Linked DNA regions of Homo sapiens: regions 1 and 2 are each linked to region 3. The links come from fine-mapping of genetic effects on gene expression. A gene starts in region 3. Each other region holds a variant in brackets. All regions are shown on one strand. Distances are between the middles of the regions.

What was found. PIP is the estimated chance that this variant, and not a neighbour inherited with it, causes the effect.
Region 1: its variant is fine-mapped to the expression of NDRG2 in whole blood (TOPMed, PIP above 0.99).
Region 2: its variant is fine-mapped to the expression of NDRG2 in whole blood (TOPMed, PIP 0.92).

What each region holds. Positions count from the first base shown.
Region 1 is chr14:21,046,841-21,053,952 of GRCh38, reverse strand. LOC105370398 (a long non-coding RNA gene) reads left to right here and starts at 5,258. Exons shown (of 4, transcript XR_943588.3): 1 at 5,258-5,691; 2 at 5,807-5,898; 3 at 7,023-7,087. It also overlaps a transcript of NDRG2 not described here. The variant C/T (reference allele first, on the strand shown) is at 3,052.
Region 2 is chr14:20,983,511-20,990,622 of GRCh38, reverse strand. It overlaps METTL17 (methyltransferase like 17), which reads right to left and starts at 643. Exons shown (of 14, transcript NM_022734.3): 1 at 546-643; 2 at 240-393; 3 at 25-159. The coding sequence starts at 620. It also overlaps the pseudogene LOC100130571. RefSeq lists an enhancer at 67-116 and a silencer at 867-996. The variant A/G (reference allele first, on the strand shown) is at 3,022.
Region 3 is chr14:21,021,320-21,028,431 of GRCh38, reverse strand. NDRG2 (NDRG family member 2) reads left to right here and starts at 3,371. Exons shown (of 16, transcript NM_001320329.2): 1 at 3,371-4,402; 2 at 5,111-5,191; 3 at 5,527-5,568; 4 at 5,935-6,040; 5 at 6,250-6,370; 6 at 6,553-6,615. The coding sequence starts at 5,117. MIR6717 (microRNA 6717) reads left to right here and starts at 5,046; the gene lies at 5,046-5,118. It also overlaps a transcript of TPPP2 not described here. RefSeq lists a silencer at 3,249-3,538.

The sequences.
Region 1 (7,112 bases), 26 kb before region 3:
TTCACTAATTAGCTGCATGACCTTGGGCAAGGCTCTTCACTAGCTTACATGGACCCAGTTTCATAGAATATCAAAGCAGGAAGGCACTTCCGAGTTCATTGAATCTTAGCTCTTGCTCTGATCAGAAGTGTATTTTTTTTTTCTTTTTTAAGGCAGGGTCTTGCTCTGTCACCCAGGCTGGAGTGCAGTGGCACGATCATGGCTCCCTGTAGTTTCTACATCCTGGGATCAGGTGGTCCTCCTACGTCAGCCTCCTGAGTAGCTGGGACTACAGGCCTGCACCACCACGTGTGGCTAATTTTTCTTTTTCTTTTCTTTTTTTTTCTGAGACGGAGTCTTGCTCTGCCGCCCAGGCTAGACTGCAGTGGCGAGATCTCGGCTCACTGCAAACTCTGCCTCCTGGGTTCAAGCGATTCTCCTGCCTCAGCCTCTTGAGTAGCTGGGATTACAGACACCCACTGCCGCGCCTGGCTAATTTTTGTATTTTTTAGTAGAGCTGGGGTTTCACCATCTTGGCCAGGCTGGTCTCGAACTCCTGACCTCATGAGCCACCTGCCTCGGCCTCCCCAAGTGCTGGGATGACAGGTGTCAGCCACTGCGCCCGGCCAAAGTGCGGCTAATTTTTCTATTTTTTGTAGAGATGGGTTTTGCCACGTTGCCAGCACTGGTCTCAAACTCCTGGACTCAAGTGATCCACTCGCCTCAGCCTCCCAAAGTACTGATATTACAGGTGTGAGCCAATGCACCTGGCAATAACGTTACCAACAGATGGTTTTTGGGCTTGAATACCTTCAGTGACATGAATCTTCACTACCTACCAGTTATATCAGGCACCCAGTTCTGTTGTCTGAGAATTCAACTTTTCTCAAAACCTGATTATCCCCTTGTAAGGCCCCTGTTTCTGTTTTTGGCGCTTCCAGTTGAAAATACTGGTCTCCTTTGACTGTTTCTAATCTTTCATCCCCATATCGATTAGTAGGCTAACAGACTGAATACTTAGCATGATCAAAGTATGGAGGGGCACTTGAGTCACTTAGTCTTATTGGTTCTCTTGTACGTATTTCTCTCCCTTTCCACTGCCTGTCTGGATGACTCTCACCACCTTCTAACTGCCTCCTTGCCTACCCTTTCTCCTGAGTTTAATTGAGCATGTATAATAATGTTGGATGGATCTTGTTAAAATATTCCTTTTCCTGCATCATTTCTCTAAAGATCATCTGTTTATCTCCAGTGGTTCTCTTGCTTGCAAGGTAACATCCAGCCTTCCCAGCCTGGAATCAAAGCCTTCTCCTACTCACCTTGCGTCCAGTCTACCCATTCCGTATGAGTGGCCTCCCTATCTTCCCTCCGAACACAAACTATTCTAACCAAATTCTATCCTAATAACCTGATTTTCCTTTTGTCTCCAGCACATGTTTTGCTCTCTTCAGCTTTGCTTCTGTTTCCCTCTTCCCTGCAAGTCCTCCCTCAAATATTATCCATCCTTTAGAACTCATCTTGACCATATGAGTTTGCTCAGGATCACATTTACGAACCTTGCCGTACAAATCCTAACCTCCTTTAGCATTAACTGTTTCATAGTATCACTCATTTGGGTTCTAAATCGTGTACTACCTTGTTTTGCTATTTAACTCTTTCATCCAGTAAGAGCATCCAGTCTTCCCAACTAGACGGTAAACTCGTGGGACAGGAATCAGGTCCTTCCGTGCTTCTCTGTCTTCATAGTGCCAGGCACATGGCTAGCTCACAGGAGCACTCAGTAACCGTGCATTGAACTCAGTCATCACTCTGATCCTCTCAGTCTTCTTACTATTTATAACACAAGGAGTTTCAGTTGAATAATGTCTAAAATGCCCCCTGGTTCTGACACTTGTGTGACACAAGAAAAAACATCAAAGTGCTAGTAAGTAGCCAGCACCTTACTAGTATGAAGGAGAGGCCTAATAGTAGACTCTGAAGGTGCCTTGAAAGAAGGGGAGCAGAGAATAAGCAACTATCTCCCAAAGACCCATTCTTTCAGGATACCCCAGGAGGGCTGAGCGAGGGTGCCAGAGAAGTTTGCCTGGTTTGCTGGCCTGAAGGACAGCAGTACCACGAGGGTCGTCTTTGAACTACAAGTGCCACCCCCATAGGGTTTTTCAAGCTTCAACCTTCAAACAGCCTCCTGGTGGTGACAGACCTGTGGTCTGGGCCCTGGTTTATGGCTCTGAGAAGCAGAGCTCCATCACATGGAATCCAGTGGCCACATTCCTTTTGGGAAGCCCTCCTCTGTTTCCAGTGGCTAACCCTGTCTCCTGCCAGGTCCATTTTTCTTTTCTATGTAGTTCTTTGAGGCCTTCCTATGGTGCCCATTTGCACTATGAGCTTGTCTCTGCGGGAGGACTGTCTCCCTTTGTTCCTCACTCCTGGATTCATCTTCATGAGGGAGAGGATGTAGTCTTCAACCCAACCAGAGCTGAGGCATATGGCTCCCTGGATACGCCAGTTCCCCTCATAGGCCGGCTGCCCTCCTGAGACCTCTGACTTACCACAACAAGGCTGCGTGCAGCCTTCAGCCCTGCTAGGAATGATAGGGGTCATAACGATAAAAACAATCATAGTTAACATTTACTGAGGCTTTTCTATGTTCCAGTCACTGTTCCAAGTGCTCTATGTCTATTTTCTCATTTTTCAGCATGAAAAGGACCTTTCCAATGCCCTAGCCCCATGACTACCCTATCTTCCTCAACCAGTTCTTGAAAAGAAACACTGGTCAGAGACAGAAATCCACAAAGAGCAAGTTAAGGAAAACATTAGAGCCAGTGTACTGCTACCCCAGGTGGAACACAGATGTGTGCAGAGGGTACACAAAGTCACAAGATAAATGTGTTCTTTACAATTTTACTAAAACCATCTTTTTAGGGGATGGGGAGTAATTTAAGGCATTATTTTTACAGAAAATAACTTTGTATGATAGAAAAATTCAAATGAGTTACATTAAATTTTTTTAGCATTTTCACTTTGAAATAATTTAAAACGTATATAAAAGTTTCAGAAAGCATACACAGAGCT[C/T]CCCTATATGCTTCACCCAGTTCCCCAATTATTAACATTTCTGAGCTATTTCAGAACAAGTTACAGACATGATGCTCATTACCCCTTAATACTTCAGTGACTATTTCCTAATTACAAGTACTCTCGTGTGCATAACCACAGTACAGCCACCAAAAAGGGGAAATTGACATTGATCCATTATTATTATTACCACAAATGAAATTTAAAGATAGCATATAAAACACTCATATGCACGGCTATTTTATAAATATTAGTTAAGTGAAAGAAGCTTCAGAGAAAGCCCAAGCTCATTGGGCACTACTTTAGGTGTTTTAGTTCATCTTCCTCTGTGGTTACTAGCACTTCAGGGGAAATTCTGGGAAGCATTGCTCTGCAGGTTCTAGTTGACCATGAAGATCCTGTTCTGGATATGCCAAATTCAAGGGTAAAAAGTGGTAACCCTTACCAAAGATAAATGCTTGGGATATCTCAGGCCCACCCGGAGCTCCACCAAACAGGATCTCTGTAATGTTTTCACCCTGGTCCGGAGTAGCAGATGGGAGGTCCAGGCCCTTTTTCTTGTTGCATATCCTTATTTATGTTTCCAGCAGCCAATGGCACGGCCAGGGACATGCTTGACTAGTTTGCCATCAATTCCTCATGTACTGTTTTTTTCCCATCTCAATGATACAATATGAGCATTCAGGTGAAGGTCAGAAATGCAACGTGTCAGGATTACGGGCACTTAATACTCTTTTGGATGAACATGCTTTTGTCTCAAATCCGGGGGTCTGCCCATTTGCAGATTGATTTGCCAGTCCATGTATGATTTGATCTTGAAAGATATCTGGGCTGGGCACAGTGGCTCACCTGTAATCCCAACACTTTGGGAGGCCAAGGCAGGCAGAACATGAGGTCAGGAGTTCAAGAGCAGCCTGACCAACATGGTGAAACCCAGTCTTTACTAAAAATACAAAAATTAGCCGGGCATGGTGGTGCATACCTGTAATCTCAGCTACTCAGGAGGCTGAGGTAGGTGAATCGCTTGAACCTGGGAGGCCAAAAAGCTCAACAAGGTTGCAATGAGTCGAGATCGTGCCACTGCACTCTAGCCTGGGTGACAGAGCAAGACTCTATCTCAAAAAAAAAAAAAAAAGAAGAAAGATGTCTGAGATCCATTTGATATTGAATGCCACTTTGTAAATATCACAAGGCTTGTTCAAAAAAGCCCGAGTTCTTGCCTAAATTATTCATGTAATCTTGGGCAAAGTGTTTAAGTCCTCAGGGTTATTTTGCTCATTTGCAACATGAGGAAGGCATGACTAGATGATCTCCGAGAACACTGGACAAGATGTCTTGCAGCATTATAATGTTATGATTACTACTGGGAGAGCCCTAAAGCCATGGAGATAGGAAATTTCATCTTGTGCTAAATGCCACGACCCAAGCAGGAATTTGTACTAATTCACACCACAGTTAGTTTATGTTTTAAATGTGTAAGTTCAACTAAGTTTCTATGAAAAAACCATAGAAAGTAATGACCACAATGTTTTTCTGCTATAACCAATCCACTGGACATGAGTCACAGGCGTTGGTGGAGGTTTTGAGTGATGAAAAATGAACCAGAAAATGGAGCTGAATCAGAGGGTGGGAAAAATATAAGAGGCTTCCACGATGGAAGTGAGGGGATAGTAAGCCTTCCTAAGGACTAATTTAAATATCTCAGGAGGGGAAGTTGGAAATGTCACTAGAGCCCTGTCTCCATCAATTGCTGCAATAATCAAATCCTTTGGATGGGAGGGAATACAGAGGGCACCCTCAAAAGTTAGTGGTCCTAAGTCCTCCAACTTATTTTCATATCTTTGGATTCATAAATTCACAGAGGTTGCAGAGGAGAAAAACTTCCCTTAAGTAATCTTAACAGAAATTCTCCAAAGCCCCCTTTTACTTCTCCTTCAACTCAAAGTACCCATCCATTCCTCCCAAATAACCTTATCTACAGAAACTAATACATATTGTCCTTTTTGTCTGACCTTGAACCTTCCCTTATCTACTCTTGGCTAGGAGCTTTTTGGCAAGAGGCGGATGAGGAGGAGTTTGGCCTCCCTTGTTTAAATCCTTTGTTCTTCTGTCACGGAAGTCAGGCCTGCTCCATTCATCACAGGTTTGACCACTCAACATTTGACACCACAATGATAAATAGAAATGCTAACACCATTCAAACTTTCCCTACATGCTAGTCACTGTACTAAGTGCTTTATATGTATTGTTACTTTTAATCCACATTATACTCTTGTGAAGTGGTAGTGAAGATCCATGTCCCTGAAGGTATTCAAGCCCAAAAACCATCTGTTGGTAACATTATTGCCAGGCGCATTGGCTCACACCTGTAATCTCAGCAGTTTTGGGAGGCTGAGGAGAGTAGATCACCTGAGCTCAGGAGTTTGAGATCAGCTTATATAGATGGGGAAACTCCCACCTCCCTAAGCTAAGAGGCGTTCTATCACAGTGTGTATTTTCATCACGAGCACACATTTTTATTTACCTTTCCTCTTATGAACTGTGGACTTCTTACAAGATCTCATTAGCAATGTGGGCTTTCTCATGTCCCTGTGGCTCCGTGGATGTTCCCAAGCTTACTGGTTTTGGAGTCTTGCACAGGTAAGCATCCTGATAAGAGCTATAACTGCTCTTCTTTTTGCCCATTCATGGTGGGGTGGGGGTAGGGGGAGGACATTAGAATGAAGCTCTGAAGTCTTTGAAGCACTTTTGGAAGCCCAGTTGTGCAGGTGCATGGAAGAAATGTGATGAAATGAGTTGAAGCTCTCCCAAGGAGAAGAGAAGGCCCCCTGGATGTTGTTGCTACTGGTATGTTTTTTGGTGCCATAGCTCAAGGGTTATCCCCCAGAGCCCCAGACACTATGAAGAGGGCCAAAGGGTCCTGATCTTAAGGGCAGGGTGTAGGCAGAGGAAATCCCTGGAGCTGAGGATCCTTCTCTTCACAGTGATTCTGTTGGCCCTCTTCATGGTGTCTAGGGCTCATTTACTTCAGTGTGTGGAGACTTCTGGGAACCAGAGTCATGTAGAAAAGTCTCCTCCCCAGTCTACCTCAGATAGTCTCCCTTCTAGGAGAGCCAGCTCATCTAGCTCCAGTTCTTGGTTTACTTTCTTTACTGAACTCCATTTCCGCTCCTTTACTCCATGTTGAAACAATTTAAGTCCATCTGCACAAGACTGGGCAAAGCTCCCCTGGACACCATCCTCCTCTCTCCAAGCTCCCAGCCCTAGAAACATAAATATCTCATAATTAAGCATTCTCCTTTTCCCATTCTTCAGCTTTCAAGTAGGAATGCATCACAGTTCAGCCAGCCTTGGTATTTGGCCCAAATTATTATCTTCTTGTATCTCAGCTTTGGCTTTTGGAAGGCTGAATAGTCAAATTCCTATTTCATCACTATTCCTGGCATCCTTTAACTTGGCTGTGATCAAGGTCACACGAAGGATTGAGTGACAAATCTATTCAGGTAGGGCACCACTAATAAGAATAGGCCAGGCCATTTGGATTTATTGTTAATATCTGAATAGTTACTTCCAAATATTGGTGAGTACTCTAGATGTAACCTGGAGTGAAATTTTCCTTGTGAGCTTAAAAAAAAATTATTATATTGAAATTCTACCAGCCAGTGGAAGTATAAATGGGTATTTATTATTATTTATTATTTTTAAGAAAGATGCTATTATTAATTGTTGTGAAAGCTTATATATGAAACAATTATTTAAAATTTCCACATGGTTAAAAAATAGGAAATTAGTTGACCGATAATATAAATAATAGAAGAGAGTGTGTTAGCTAGATAACTTTAGGGAGAACCTTATGTCCCTTGATCAACAATGATTTGAACTGTGCAAGTCCACTTACATTCAAATTTTCATCTGCTTCTGCCATCCCTGAGACAGCAAGACCAACCCCTCCTCTTCCTTCTCCTCCTCAGCCTCCTTAACGTGAAGACAATGAGGATGAAGACTTTTATGATGAGCCACTTCCACTAAACGAATAGTAAATATTTTTTTCTTCCTTATGA
Region 2 (7,112 bases), 38 kb after region 3:
TTTTTAATTATTCTTAAGTCCTACCTGGGTTTTCCAGGAATTTTTTCTCAAGATGCCTAGCCCGTCTTTGCAACTCCTCTGGCTCTACAGGCAAATGTCTGCTCCAGAGATAACTGGTCAGTGTTTGCACCTGATTCTCCATAGTGGGCCCAGCGCTCCCTATGGGCCAAAGACGAAAAGCGGAATCACTTGCATGTAGGTCCAGTCCCGTTTCTTCTCGCTTTCCCGCCGTTACTCACCAAGTAGCAATAACTGGGCACCGTTAGCCAGTGCCTGTGGCAGCCGCACGTGCGGCAGCTTTAGGATGCCAGGGTGCTGGCGATGAGGCCTCTTCTGCAGGAAACCGGACTTGTTATCTACCTGGGTCACTCCGGGTACTAAGGCGGCGAGCGCCTGCAGGCAGAGAAAGGTAGGTTGATTTCCTGGCAGAAAGGAAAGTTGCTGGCAATCGCTAGGGCGGGGGCTGCCAGGAGCGCTCCTCCTCTGCGCGGAGATGTCTCTGCAGATCCAGAGTCTCTCCGACAGCAGGGAATGTAGGCACTCACCCGGGCCTGGGGAGCCACTCCAAGGCCGGGGCACCATCTTCCTAATGTCAGTAGACACTTCAGTGCCGCCGCCATGGCTCCGGAGGCGAACCGGAAACGGAAATACAGGTGCCTGTGACCCTCAGTCCCAACGCCGCAAGGAGCAGCCTTCGCAGAACTTCTCCCGACAGTTTCAGCCAACGAGAAGAGCGAGTGTTTGCCAGCAGCCAATAAGCAATGGTTATATAAATAATCCTTGAGGCAGAAACCGTGTTTGGGCCGACTTGAAGGCTGCGTTGGGCCTGGTCACCGGCCCCAGAAATCAAGAGGGTGGGGTGGGGCGGGGCGGGACGGGACGGGGGCGGGATGGGGTTGGGTGTGAGCGCGCCAGCAAAGACTGTTTCTGGGAGTACTGACTTCCTGTGTTCTTTGCATTCCTCCGCGGAGAACTCTGAGTCTTGGGTTGTTTCCCTGTGTGAAAAAGGGAGACTGCAGTAACGGAAAGAAGAGAAAAATCAGATTTAAGCGACTGAAGAAAACAGAAATTAATAGTTAAATGATTATTGAATAGTTAATAGTTTGATAAATATTAAACCTAGTTAATAGGTTTATTTATTTTTTTACATTTGTTAATTTCTCTTCAAATGAGACCAGTCTTCTTAGTAAGCTAACATAACACTTACTGAGAACACCTATGTGCTAGGTACTTCAGGGAAAAGGACTGATCCCCACTTCACAGAAAACATGGTTCTGACGGGGACCCTCCTGTGTCTGCTGCTACGTCAGAGTGTTTCCCCCAGGCCCAGGACTTAGACAGTAGCCGTCTGATTACCTGAGGTGCAGAATCTCAGGTGGGTCCAGCCACTATTGTGACGTGATAATATAGCATAGGGGAATGGTCTCCAGAGTCTGCAAGCTCATCAACACCTTCATTCACTAGAGCATCAGAAGGATAAATGGCATATGCAAGGCGATATCTACTTTCGGGACCTGACAGTGGACAACTGCTACCTCAGTCTCCGAACACTTGAGCTCACCCAGTGTGTGATTTCTGTGGGCTCCTGGCCCCCTAATTTCCGTTACAGGTTTAGGATGTTCTCCCAGCACATCCACTTGACCTGTGTGTGGAACCAGCCAGTTCATCTGGAGGGCTAGACTCCTGAGTCATCAGGCTAGGGCCTGATGATCTCAGGCCCCAGCGCCCTAATTGGACTTTCCTTCTGTGGTTCTCTACCTTATTCGACTTCTTCCCCAAATCTGCAGACCTCACCGACTGCAGCCTGCCAGCTCTCTCAGGGCTCCTCATCTCGGGGTGAGGTGGGGTGAGGAGACATGGGTGGACAGGGGGAGAAGGGCCGCTCTGCCTCTTCCAGGCGGAACCGCCCTTCCTGTAGATGAATGCATGGCCCACTGACACATCCTAGGCTGACACTTGCCTCTTTTCCAGCTTTTCCTCAGTCCTCCTTTTACCTGGGAATCTTTCCTGGGTGCTCAAAAGGGTCACCACAGTGACCTCTACCCCTCCAGTGAGAATGCTCACGTTCAGAGTCGTGATTCTGTGTGTGCCCTGGGCTGAGGACTCTGCCCTAGAGATATCTGAGGAATGGAACCATTAAATTAAATTGATACCTGTTGATATCTCTCCAGACTATTAAGTCCACAACCCAGGCCGTCTCAAAGGTTCTTACTCCTGAAGCCATCCCTCATTTTTTGTGCGAGTCTTGCCCAAATGCCAGGGTGCTGGCGATGGGGCCTATTCTTGCCCAAATGCACAGATAATTCTGAAGATTGGGCCATACTAGATGTGTGTGTTGGAAGATCTGCCAAGATTCTACTGTCAGCTAGTCAGAGCTCTTGAGTAAATCCCTCAGCATCTTGTCCTTATAATTCTATTCATATAGCTGAGATCATGTCACGGCTCCAAAAGCCACCATCCAAATTATGGGCATTTTCTGTCCATAAAACTTTGTGAAATGATTCCTTGTAGGAAATTTATCCAAGGGAATCACCAGATCTCAAGTACCTTCATAGTAGTTCAACTCCAACGCATAAGCCACCGCGCCTATGTAGGGGCTCCACACAATGTTTGCACTCCACACAATGTTTGCGCTCCAGGATAAGAGAAGGAGAGAAGGGAGAAAGGGATGCAACTTTCACCTCAATGGGAGTGAATGAATGGCCTCTTCAAACATGACCTGTCTGGGATTCTGAGTCATTCTAGTTCCCCTGCAACAGTAGGAGCCATCTTGACTTTATCTCTGAATCTCAGTGTCTGTCTTATTCTGTGCTTGGGTTTTAGTAGGTTACCAGTGTTTGCAGAAGTGACCCTGCCTGATTTGCGGTGGACTGTGAAGCTAAGTGTCTACTCTTTTCCCTCCGTAGGCCACTGGGAGGACAGATGATGCTCAAGTTTCCCTTTTTCCTCTTGGTCTTATGTCACTTACTGCTTTCTTTTCTTTTTTTTCTAGCCTATTGTTTTCTTTTTAAGACAGGTGAC[A/G]TTCTGTCACCCAGGTTGGAGTGCAGTGGTGAGAACATGGCTCACTGCAGCCACACATCCTAGGTTCAAGCGATTCTCCTACGTCAGCCTCCTGAATAGCTGGGACGACAGGTGTATGCTACTGTGCCTGGCTAATTTTTTATTTTTTTCGAGAGATGGGGTCTTTCCACGTTGCCCAGGCTGGTCTTGACCTCCTGAGCTCAAGCGATCCTCTGGCCTTGGCCTCCCAAAGTGTTGGGATTACAGGCGTAAGCCACCGCGCCTGCCTTATTCTATTGTTTCCTTTCTCTCCCACCCTCCCACTTCTTTTCTTCCTCCCTTCTTTTATTCCTTTTTTTTCACAGCACAAGATATCTTCTAATGTAAATATTTGATTCTTTATGATAAATTAAAAAAAGACTGGGGTGCAAATCAGAATCAATCACATTTTTTTCTTACTCCTTGGGGGCTCATTTGACTCTTGAGTGGGAAAGAGGCAGATCCCAGGTGAAGCCTCAGTCTCTTGGCCTAAGGCAGGGAGAAGCATGAGTCAGATCAACATGATGATTCATCTGAGTCTCAACCATGAAGAAATTCACGGATTGTACAGGGTTTTCTGGTGCAGTCAGCTTTCTTGTGTTGTGACTTGGCTGATTAACTCATATTCAAGGCCAGAACTACTGTTGCTGTTGAGACTAATCCAATTACAAAGTATTCTGCTGCGGGGGAGGGATCTTCCAATTGGATCTGATCTCCTTTGGCAAAAATCTATGTTGAGGAAAGCAAGGAGGTTCTGGAGGGATTATAGATTTTGAAAACTCTGGCTCGGGCAGACCCAGCATGGCTTCCTACAGATATAGGATGGGGGATCACCACAGAGCAGTGTTAGTCTTGGCATGGGATGGCATGAAAGGATCGCTGATATCCTCAGAAGATGAATGGTGGTCACACAGGAGCTTCTTTGGAGGTGCATTGTGGACTCTTAACACATGGATAAAGTCTTAGAGGAAAATCCAAGGATTGGACACCCATTGGGGGTCTCGTATATCTCTCCTGAGGGACTGAGACCCTGAAATAGGGACCGGAATGGCCAGGGCAGTGAGAGAATGTAGAAGTCTTTCTATTCTCAGTTCATGTTTCTCAAGAAAATCTAAAAGTTATCCCATTAAAATGTTCTGGGTTGGGGGCCTCCATTGTTTAACAACTAGGTCAATGGTTTCCAGTTCAGACTCGGGAGAGGAATCCCAAGAAGGAAACTCTGGCTTATCATCTACTTCTCCAAGCCTTCTAGAAATACCATTTCTAATGTACTGTCCTGCAACAGGGACCAATTCAAGACAGAACTTTCCAGAAGGATCTGTTTGTGTTTTTGAGAACTACTGGGAATGGCCAGCACAGCCACCTGGCCTAGGAGACTTGCTATTATACAGAAAATGAAGAAAAAATGTGAGAAGAAAGGGATGAAGAAAGAGAAGATAAAGAGGAAAGAAAGATATATAATGGGGAAAGACATTTATCCATGATAGGGAGTTTATTTTTCGTTCTTGAGTTGGTGGAATTCTTTACTGACCATGTTAGATGTGCCACACTCTGTGTTAAGGGCTAAAGCTAGGAGAGGAGGAGACTGTGTTATGGGAAGTGGTATTTTTTTTCTTGTTCAAATCTTGTTCCAAATTTCTACTTTGAATTTGGTGGAGCTGTTTTTGTTCAAGCTCTGATAGTACTGTGGGCATCAGACATCTATGAAATCTTCTACAAGCCAGTTCAGCTTCCTCTCCCTCCTCCTCCTCCTCCTCTTTCTTCTTCCTCTTCCTCTTCTTCTTCTTTTTTTTTTAAGACAGAGTTTCACTCTTGTTGCCCAGGCTGTAGTGCAATGGCATGATCTCGGCTCACTGCAACCTCTGCCTTCTGGGTTCAAGCGATTCTCCTGCCTCAGCCTCCTGAATAGCTGGGTTTACAGGCGTGCGCCACTATACCCAGCTAATTTTTTTTTTGTATTTTTAGTAGAGATGGGATTTTTCTATGTTGGCCAGGCTGGTCTCAAACTCCTGACCTCAGGCGATCCACCTGCCTCGGCCTCTTAAAGTGCTAGGATTACAGGTGTGAGCCACCATGCCTGGCCTCTTTCTTCTTTTTAATCCTACTCCAGCACTCCAAAGAGCCATGTTGTATAAAGGGGAGCCTAAAACCCAAAACAAGTAGAGCAAGGGAGGGCCATTCCAAGGAGGAACCCAGCTTCTTTTTTGTTTTTAGCAACACCCCTGTTTCTCTCTTCATACAAACATTCTCCATCTCATCACACCTCTATGCTGGAAACTTGAGTCTTTGGATTTCTTGCTGTTCAAAATTCTGCAGTGAATTAAAGCAGTCTGTTCAGTTCCTCCTGAAGTGATTCCACTGCTCCATATGCATTGGATTTATCTTCTCTAGATTTTAGTCTTGACCTGATTAATGCCTCCATTCCATGTCAACTAACATAAACCTAAAAAAAAAAAAACACAGATCTTTATGTAAAATCTGTAAAAGAATGAATATCTACTTTGCCCTCCTTCCACAGGGAACCCGGCCCATGTAGGCCCTGGGGCCACAGAATGCGGGCAACTGCTGTTCAAGGACCAGCATGAGGGGGCCAGGGCCAGGGTGCTGCTTTTGGGAATGCTGTACACTTCAGCCATTGTGGCTTTTGTGTTGTATAAGTGTTGCAGATGCAGAGATGGCTGGGGGTCTGGGTGCCCTGAGTCTGCATCTCTCATGGGGGCACCATAGTACTGAGAGCAAGATACAGTTTCCGCTGTCTGTAAAATGAAGATAATAGTTGATTGGCCTCCAACATTATAGAGTAATTTTAAGGATTCAGCGAGGTAAGGCTGAATGTGGAAGGCACGTGGTAAACTGTAAATGAATAATGACCATCACATTTAATTTTCCTACAATCTGATAAAGAGTAGCCACTTGCTTGAGGTCACCCAGAGCAGCAACTGGTGGAGCTGGACACTCAGCTAGTGTTCATACTACTAAAGTGGGGCCAACTGTGGCACAAGGGGTTGATTGCTGCAACCATAGTGTTTCTAGAGTTCAAGACATCAAGTGGTCTCATGTTCTCCTAGGGAGAGAGGCCCTTAAATATGAGTTGATGGTACATTTTGGAAAGTAAACTTTCTAGGACAGTATCTTCAGCCCTGACCCTATTGTTTATTTGCATTAGAAAATAAAACCGATTGAACCAATTTTGATGTATGAAACTAGAAGAGATAGCTAATAATGATCCCAGGTAGACATGACAGGCTAGGATGAGTGACTGGATTTAATAATGAAATTTAACAAGGATAGTTTAGTAAATTCTATCCTTCGGCGTGAGTACAGTCTGGAAGAAGATATTTCTTAGCAGCAGCACTTATGAGAGAGACTTAGGCCTACCCGTTGACTAATAAGTTTATGGTGTGATGTGACAACCAACAACCTACTTCCCAAATCAATGGTAGGAACAAGGTGTTGTGCTTTATCTACTGACCAGAACATTCCTGGAGAATTTTTGTCTCCCAGAACTGCCTTAAGAGCGCTATATGTTCAGTAAAGCAACCAGAGAAAACTATGCAAAATGAGCCCTGACTGAAAAGATCAAAGATATTAAACCAGAAAAAACTCAGGAAAGGGAGCAAGGGTATGCCCATTGTCTTCAAATTCCTGAGGAACTATCACGTTGAAGAGCCATTATTTTGGAAGGCTCTAATCAGGGCTATGGAAAGAAGATACATGAAGGACAAATTCTGGCTTTGTATATGAACTGTCTAACAACCAGAGCTCAATCAAACGCGAGAGAGCTGCTCATTCCTGGAGGTGTTTCAGCAGACCGAATGACCATGTGTGGGACACGATGACATGTTGCTTCATGTGCTGGGTGAGGAACTAGACTAGAAGTAATTGTGATTCTCTGAGGTAAAATCCCAATAGCATTCTCTACCTTAAATGACACTCCTCTCTTTACTGGCTTTGGAGACTGAGGTGATGGAGCAGAACAATTTTGCTGCAGTATTGCCCCTTTTTTCTTCCACAACAGGGGAAAGATGAAGCTGCAGTTCTCCAAGAGGAGTCAGGCAAGAAGCACCCATTGC
Region 3 (7,112 bases):
AATAATAAAAAAATTAGTTGGGAGTGGTGGCATGCACCTGTAGTCCCAGCTACTGAGGAGGCTGAAGTGGGAGGATTGCTTGAGCCCGGGAGTTTGGGGCTGCAGTGAACTAGGATTGTGTCAGCGCACTCCCACCTGGCTGACAGAGAGACCCCATCTCAAAAACAAAACAAAACAAAACAAAACAAAAAGAACCCCAAGAAACAAAAAACCTAAGAACCAGATTATTCTGCAGCTGGGGTCATATGGCCTAATTGCTATACACTTGACAGGCTACTTGGGAGTGGAAGGAGCATAGTCCCTGGAGTGGAATGGACCGGGGTGGGGAAATGAATCCTAGATATGTCATTTACTAGCTGAGTGGACTTGGGCAACTCACTAAACATTTCTGAGTTTCAATTTTCTCATCTGTACAGTGAGGACGATAACACTAACCTTACGGTATTAGGGGATAATACATGGGAAGCTACTATTCAGTTCTCCAAAGTAACCTGAATGTTTCTGCCTCCAAACTGTCCTTCATGCTCTCTCTGTGCCTGGATAGAATGCCCCTCACTCCCACTCAAGTATTCCATGGTTGCACTTCTCATTTGGTGGTTCATCCTAGGAACAAAGCCCTTTTCCTTCTCTGAATTATAGTAAGATAATGATTTCTAGACTGTGGGCCACAGCCTCCTGGCGTGAGGATTTCTGAAATCTTGCAAAGGGCCCTAGAATCTGTATGTATAAAGAGTGAGTGTGAACTGAGTAAATAATATGCCTTGCATGTGTAGGTATTACCGCATTTACAGATGTTGTGACAGAAACTTACTTCAAAGTATTGATGAATTCATAGTTTGCATTTTCTCCATCAGGGGATACTATACCTATTATGTGGGGTTGGAAATCTCTAATCTCCCACTTGAGAAGGGTGGGAAACTACTGCTATAGGACTTACTGTCCAAATGATTGATCTTATATATAACTTGTCCTGTGTTTGTACCTTCTCTTGACAAATGTCAAAATGTCATTTCTCATCACAAATGTCTAGAGAGGGTGTGACCAGATGCACACTTTGAATTTCATCTACACAGTGGCTTGCACATAACAGATACTTAAAACTGTTGCTTACTTGAAGGTATAGTGTGAAGCTGCTCTGGCCAAAGGGAAAGAGTTTAGACAGAGATTGTCCTTGCAACACTTACACCCTGGTTGGGCTGGGAGCTGCCCTGACATGGAAGAACCATATCTTAGGGGAGAACCAGCCTTACTTCTGCCTGCAGCAGGCTGGGTGGGACCCCAAGGTCTAGGAAGCCAATGGATGTCAGTGGAAATTTCCCATCTCCTGCCTGCCCTGCGCCCCTGCGTAGGCCCCTTATCAGGTTCCCCCTGAGTCATCCTGACCCAGAGACGAATTTAGATGCTGGAACCTTCAGGTCCTTCCCTCCCCCACTCCAAGTAAGACGACTTTTGACAAAGAAAAGCCTGCAGGCAAAAGTTCTCACTCGAGGCTCTCCCTCTCCCCAGGTTCCTCTGGTGCTGATGAGATCTCTCCTGTCTTGCGCACCTTTGGCTGTGACCCTTATTCCAGCAGGCTTTTCCTTGTCCAGGAGAGTGTTAAACTGGCATCCAGAGGGAAGAGGGGACTAGGAGAGGAGCCAGGGTGCCCAGCTTCTGTGCCAGTTTCTGGGGAAAAAGTTATAAAGGGAGTGGGAGAAAGGAACAGAAGAAAAGTTGGGTGCTCCAAATTGGGGGATGTAGGGGGAGCTCCTTAGATTTGGGGTTGTTGAAGGCTGGGTTTTAGCCCGACCAGTTTTCCTACTGTGGGTCACCTCCTCCCTCTTGGCCTCTCCTTCTTTCCAGTAGACCCTGCCAAGTGGGGATGAAAGGGGCATTGATGTTCCTTGGATGGGAGGGGTATTGCGGGTGGTGAGGGTGGTGGTGGGAGGGTGGTTCCCAGGCAGGAGGGGGCAGGGAAACTTGGGGGTCTTGGGGGGGCAGTCGGTGCTGGTGTTGCAGTTGGCAGCTCAAGTTCCATTGGCCATTGTTCCTGACTGGCCTGGCGCCCAGCCCCCGAAATGGCAACTCAGGAACCAGTCTGAAGGGGGTTGGGGTGGATATGATCCTGGGATTGGGGGAGCTACAAGGGGGGCAGGTGGGGAGAAATTCAGTCAGGTTTCCTTTTGCCTAAACAACTTCGAATTCCCTTAAGCCACATTTTTAATCAACTAACTCATTCCAGGGAGCCTTCCTCCGAGGGGCACAAGGAGAGCTCATTCCAGGGTGTGTGTGTGTGTGTGCGTGTGCGTGTGTGTGTAAAGTCTACAGTGGCAAACCCACTCGGGCACCGAGAGGGACGCGGCAGACCCTGAGACCATCCCCCGGGCATTGCGATTCAGCGGGCCTGAGCTGGTCTCCTATTCTGGGCCGGACTGGGAGGGGTTAGCGGCGAAGCCACAGGGTCTCTTGGGTCCCAGCCCAGGACACTGCGTCCTCCCCAAGCCCCTACTCCACCCCCGCAGGGTTAACTCCGCCCCTGCGCCTGTTTACCCAGGAGTCAGAGCCTCTGGGGGTCCCCGGCCCCTCCCCCGCGCCCCTTGAGGCATTGACCCCAGAGTCCCTGTTGGCCATCCTCTCCCCACCCCCCGCCTGCCCGCGATCGCCCTCTATTTATAGCGGCCCCCCGCATTCCCCGCCCCCACCTCCCCGCCTTGTTGTCCAACTTCTCCCGGAGCAGCCGGAGAGCAGGCGTCGGGACGCAGCAAAGAGAGGAGAGGTACCAGGACTCTGGGCACGAGGGAGTCGGAACTCCTGCGCCCTCGACGTTCCCCCGTGCCCCCTTTCGGCGCCAGCACACCTGCCCCTGCCAGCCGGCGAGACCCCCGCCTCCTCAGCGGCGGTCCCGCCCACCTCCTCCTTTCTTAATCTAGTTCTCTGTGTTCGGGCGGGGGGAGTCGAACTCGTGGGGTGTCAGTATCCCGGGTTCGTCTCCCCACTACCGGTTCCCACCACTGAGTCTGGGGGCGAAGGAAGGAGCCAGAGTGCAATTGCAGATCCAGGTCGTGGATGGGGCGGTGCTGAGGGCAGCCGAGGGATCCCTCTCAGGGCTGAGGGATCCCCGCACTCCCCACACCGCCCCAATGCGGGGAGGGGGTGGTGGAATGTTTTGGTGAGCCGAGCAGAGCCTGGAAGCGTCCAGCCGCCCGCCCCTCGCCCCCCGGCCCCAGCACAACCCTTTCCTGAGCGGCAGTCTGGGCGGGGTGAAAGGGGGGGCGTGTTTACTGGGGGTCTGGGGCGGGTCTGCGGGGAGCCTAGCGCCCGTGGGCGGGCTGGGGCGGGCCGGGGGCGGGTCTGCGGGAAGCCCGAGCCGGGGCGGGCCCGAGTCAAAGGCAAGTGAAGGTGGAAGCGGCCGCGGCGGCAGCAGGTAGGGGGAGGGGCAGGCGAGGGGCCGTAGGGCCTGGAAGGCGCCAGCCGGGCCGGCGGGCGGTGTGATTGATCCGCGTCCCCTGGAGCTGGAGGCTCGGGGGAAAGGGCCAGCACGGAGCGGGCGCTCGGTTGCTGCGCACAAAGGCTGAGGCTCCAAGAGCTGCAGGGCGTGTTTGGGGTGCGCGCGAGGTTGTGTGCAAGGTCCGGGGCGCTTGGCACCGGCCACGCAAGGGTGTCAGTCTCCACGCGGACGGGCTGCGTAGGGACTCGTAGGGACGGGTTCCGGGTGCTGGGCCCGGCCGGTCTCCTCTGTCCTACCCATCCCTTCCCGATGGCGCTTGCCTTCGCGGGCCGTCGGGGGAGAACGGGAGAAGATTGTGGGACCGCTCTCCTCTCCCTTTCTCCACTCGTGGGACCTACACGGAGACTGAGTAGAGGAGAGAAGCGACGGCACCAATCTTTGTGTTTGTTTTTAAATTGTGGAGGGAAACAGCCATGCTCTGCTACCCTCCTCTTACTGGAGAGCTGTCAAAAATTTTGGGGATCCCCTATTCCCCCGCGTTTAGTCCCCCTGCAGATAGAAAATTGAGGCCAAATGTAGTAACTAACTGGGGCAAGGTCACACTGGGAGTGGCAGAGCCGGGATTCGAATCCGGAGGTTCTGACAGGGCCACCCTCTTACCTCCACATCAGCACTTCCTTCTCTCCTCCGCGCAGCCTGAACTGATGCCCTTGTAGCCTATATTGATTCCGGCTCGAGCCTAGAGAGGACGTGTTCTCTGGACTTAGGGGTAGACAGACACTGGGGAGGGTTAGTGACCCGAGGAGGTTGATGACCCTGGGAGTCTGGGTCTTGGCTGAGGCTTTCCGTCCCTGAAAGACCCCAGGTCTGTCTCCCATGTCATTCACCTCGTTGCTGTGTTTTCTCAGACCCCAGAGTCAGAAGGAGTGAGAACCCTGACCCCTAATCCCACTGCATCCAGCCAATAGGAGCCCAGTAAGTGACCCCACCCCGCAGGCTGCAGGCTCCTTCCTGTGCAGGTCTGTCCAGGTGCTCTGCTCCTCACCCACTAATGTTGAACTTGCGGAGTTTATTCAGAGTTGGGAGGAAGGGTCTTGGGAGGAAGGGAGGCATTGGGTTGGTTGGACAGATGTCCCTTTTATGTTGTTTTCCCCACCTCCCCCATTGGTCATGTTGCTTTGGTCATTTTTAGCCCCCTTTGAGCTGCCGACTTTGGGGCTTTAATTGAAGGTCATGGTCAATTGTGAACTCTCACAGTCCCGTCTTTTGGTACCCTGTCCTTTAGAATACTCAGTCACTGAGCTACAAGTTTCACTCCCTACCTGAGAGTGTGGGGTGGCCCCTAAATATAGCCCGAGAAATCTGAGCTACACTTCTGCCCCACCCTGGTATTTTGGTCCAGGGCAGAGGAGGGAGGGGTCTGGAGGTGTGGTGTTGAGGGTGGCAGTGGGGATGGTGAGTATCAAGAGAAGGGCTGTCCTGATTCCTCTTCCAAAGCTTCCACCGATCAGCCTGGAAACGGAGCTGGGGGCAGGAAAGGCCCTCTGTGTGTTCTAGAGTAGTCTTCAACCCCTGGGTCCCTCTGTTCCCTGCATCTTCCTGTGCTGAGAGAGGAAGCCTGGTGTTTGAGGCGATGTGGGGATGTAGAGACAACTTCCCAGTCTCATTTCCTCATCCTGCCAGGCCACCATGGCGGAGCTGCAGGAGGTGCAGATCACAGAGGAGAAGCCACTGTTGCCAGGACAGACGCCTGAGGCGGCCAAGGTTATTAGAGACCGTTTGACTCCCATGCCCAAATTCCAGACCTCTAAGCATCCCCCTTGCCTTCTAACTTCCCAAGCGTACTGATCTTATTCTAACTCACACCACTGCTTCACCACTACCCTAGTCTCTCTCCCCATACACTATAATTGGGAGTCAGGCCCTTGTCTCGTCACTACACTAACCTTCATCCTTTCCGTGTCTCTCTTTGTCAATCTCTTTCTGTCTTTGGTCATTTGTTGGTCTGTCTTTACTTGCCTCTCTTTGTCTGTTTGTCTCTCCATCTGGGACGCCACATGGTCATGTGTTTCTGTGTGAATCCGTGTGTGTCTCTCCAGGAGGCTGAGTTAGCTGCCCGAATCCTCCTGGACCAGGGACAGGTAACAGTGTGGGGGCAGTCCCAAGGTGGGAGGAGGGGCTGTCCTCTTCCCCAGTAGAAGGATGGCCTCTGCTTGGCCCTCTCTTCTCTCTTTGCTTTCTTTCCTTCTATTCTAGTCCTTTCCCTTCCCTATCTCTCCCCTCTCCTTCCTTCCCCTCCTCTTCTCTCTCTAATCTTCATTATTCTTTCTTATCCTCAAACTCATCTTCCGGTATCATGTTTTCCTCAATTCTTGCTGATCCTGTTTTTAATTCTTTGTTCCCTTTTCCCTCTTGCCCACCCACTCCCAGCTCCCTGACCTTGGTGTTGCTCCTTTTCTGGCCTCGTCTCCTCTGAGCCTAGCTCTTGGTGCCCTGTTTTCCTGCAGACTCACTCTGTGGAGACACCATACGGCTCTGTCACTTTCACTGTCTATGGCACCCCCAAACCCAAACGCCCAGCGATCCTTACCTACCACGATGTGGGACTCAACTGTAAGGACCTTCATTCATCTCCCACTCCTGTCTGGGAAGAGGCTGTGGGGGAAGGGTAGAAATGAAACCCAGAGGGAGGGGAGGGGTCAGTGTGGGAAGGAGAAGTTCTCTCCTGGTCTGACTGTGGCATGAAAGGAAGGGTGAGTTCTGACTGGGGGACACGAGTCCCTGTCTGATTCTATTGTTGAGGTGATGTGGGTTCTCTTTAGATAAATCTTGCTTCCAGCCACTGTTTCAGTTCGAGGACATGCAGGAAATCATTCAGAACTTTGTGCGGGTTCATGTGGATGCCCCTGGAATGGAAGAGGGAGCCCCTGTGTTCCCTTTGGGGTAAGAGTTAGGTCGTTACTGCTTCACCAGACTGTGAGGAACAGGACAGGTGCGGGAAAGGTTCGACTGGGGAGGAGGAAAGGGAGGGCAGTGGTTATTCTGGGAGAGAATGAGTAGGACATCCTGAGGTGGGGGGTGTGAGGGCAGGTTGGTATCTTCCTTAACATGCCTCTCTTTTCCAGATATCAGTACCCATCTCTGGACCAGCTTGCAGACATGATCCCTTGCGTCCTGCAGTACCTAAAGTGAGAGGCCTGGGAACCCCTCCAAACCAGAGTTCTCTTTCCAGCACAAGGAGACCCTTAGAACTTCCAGGTTCACCGTGGTTCCTGAGCCAGTTTCAGCTTCTGAACTCAATATATCTTCTTCCTTCATGCTCCCGCCTTGATTATTGAGAAAAGGTGGTGGGTTTGGAAAATTGGCCAGAGTCAACAGAATAGCCCTAATGGGTGGAGGGAAGGAAAAGGGTCTATGCTTGGCCCTGCCTCAGGCTAAGGAGGGCCTTCTCTGATCAGAAAGTCAGGGAGGAATGAAAGGGGGTGACATAATCCCTGAGGAACCAGATAGACCTGTCTCTTTCTCTCCCACTCCCCTCTCCTTCATGCCCACACCTGGTGGATGGGGAGCTCTGCGGGTGAGAGAGAGTTGGGGAAGGAAGAGAACACCAGACCAAGTGTCTTTGGTATTCAGAGGGAGGTGCTGGCCCCTGGGTGCTGTTCTTAGCTAAGCTTCTCCTAGGCAC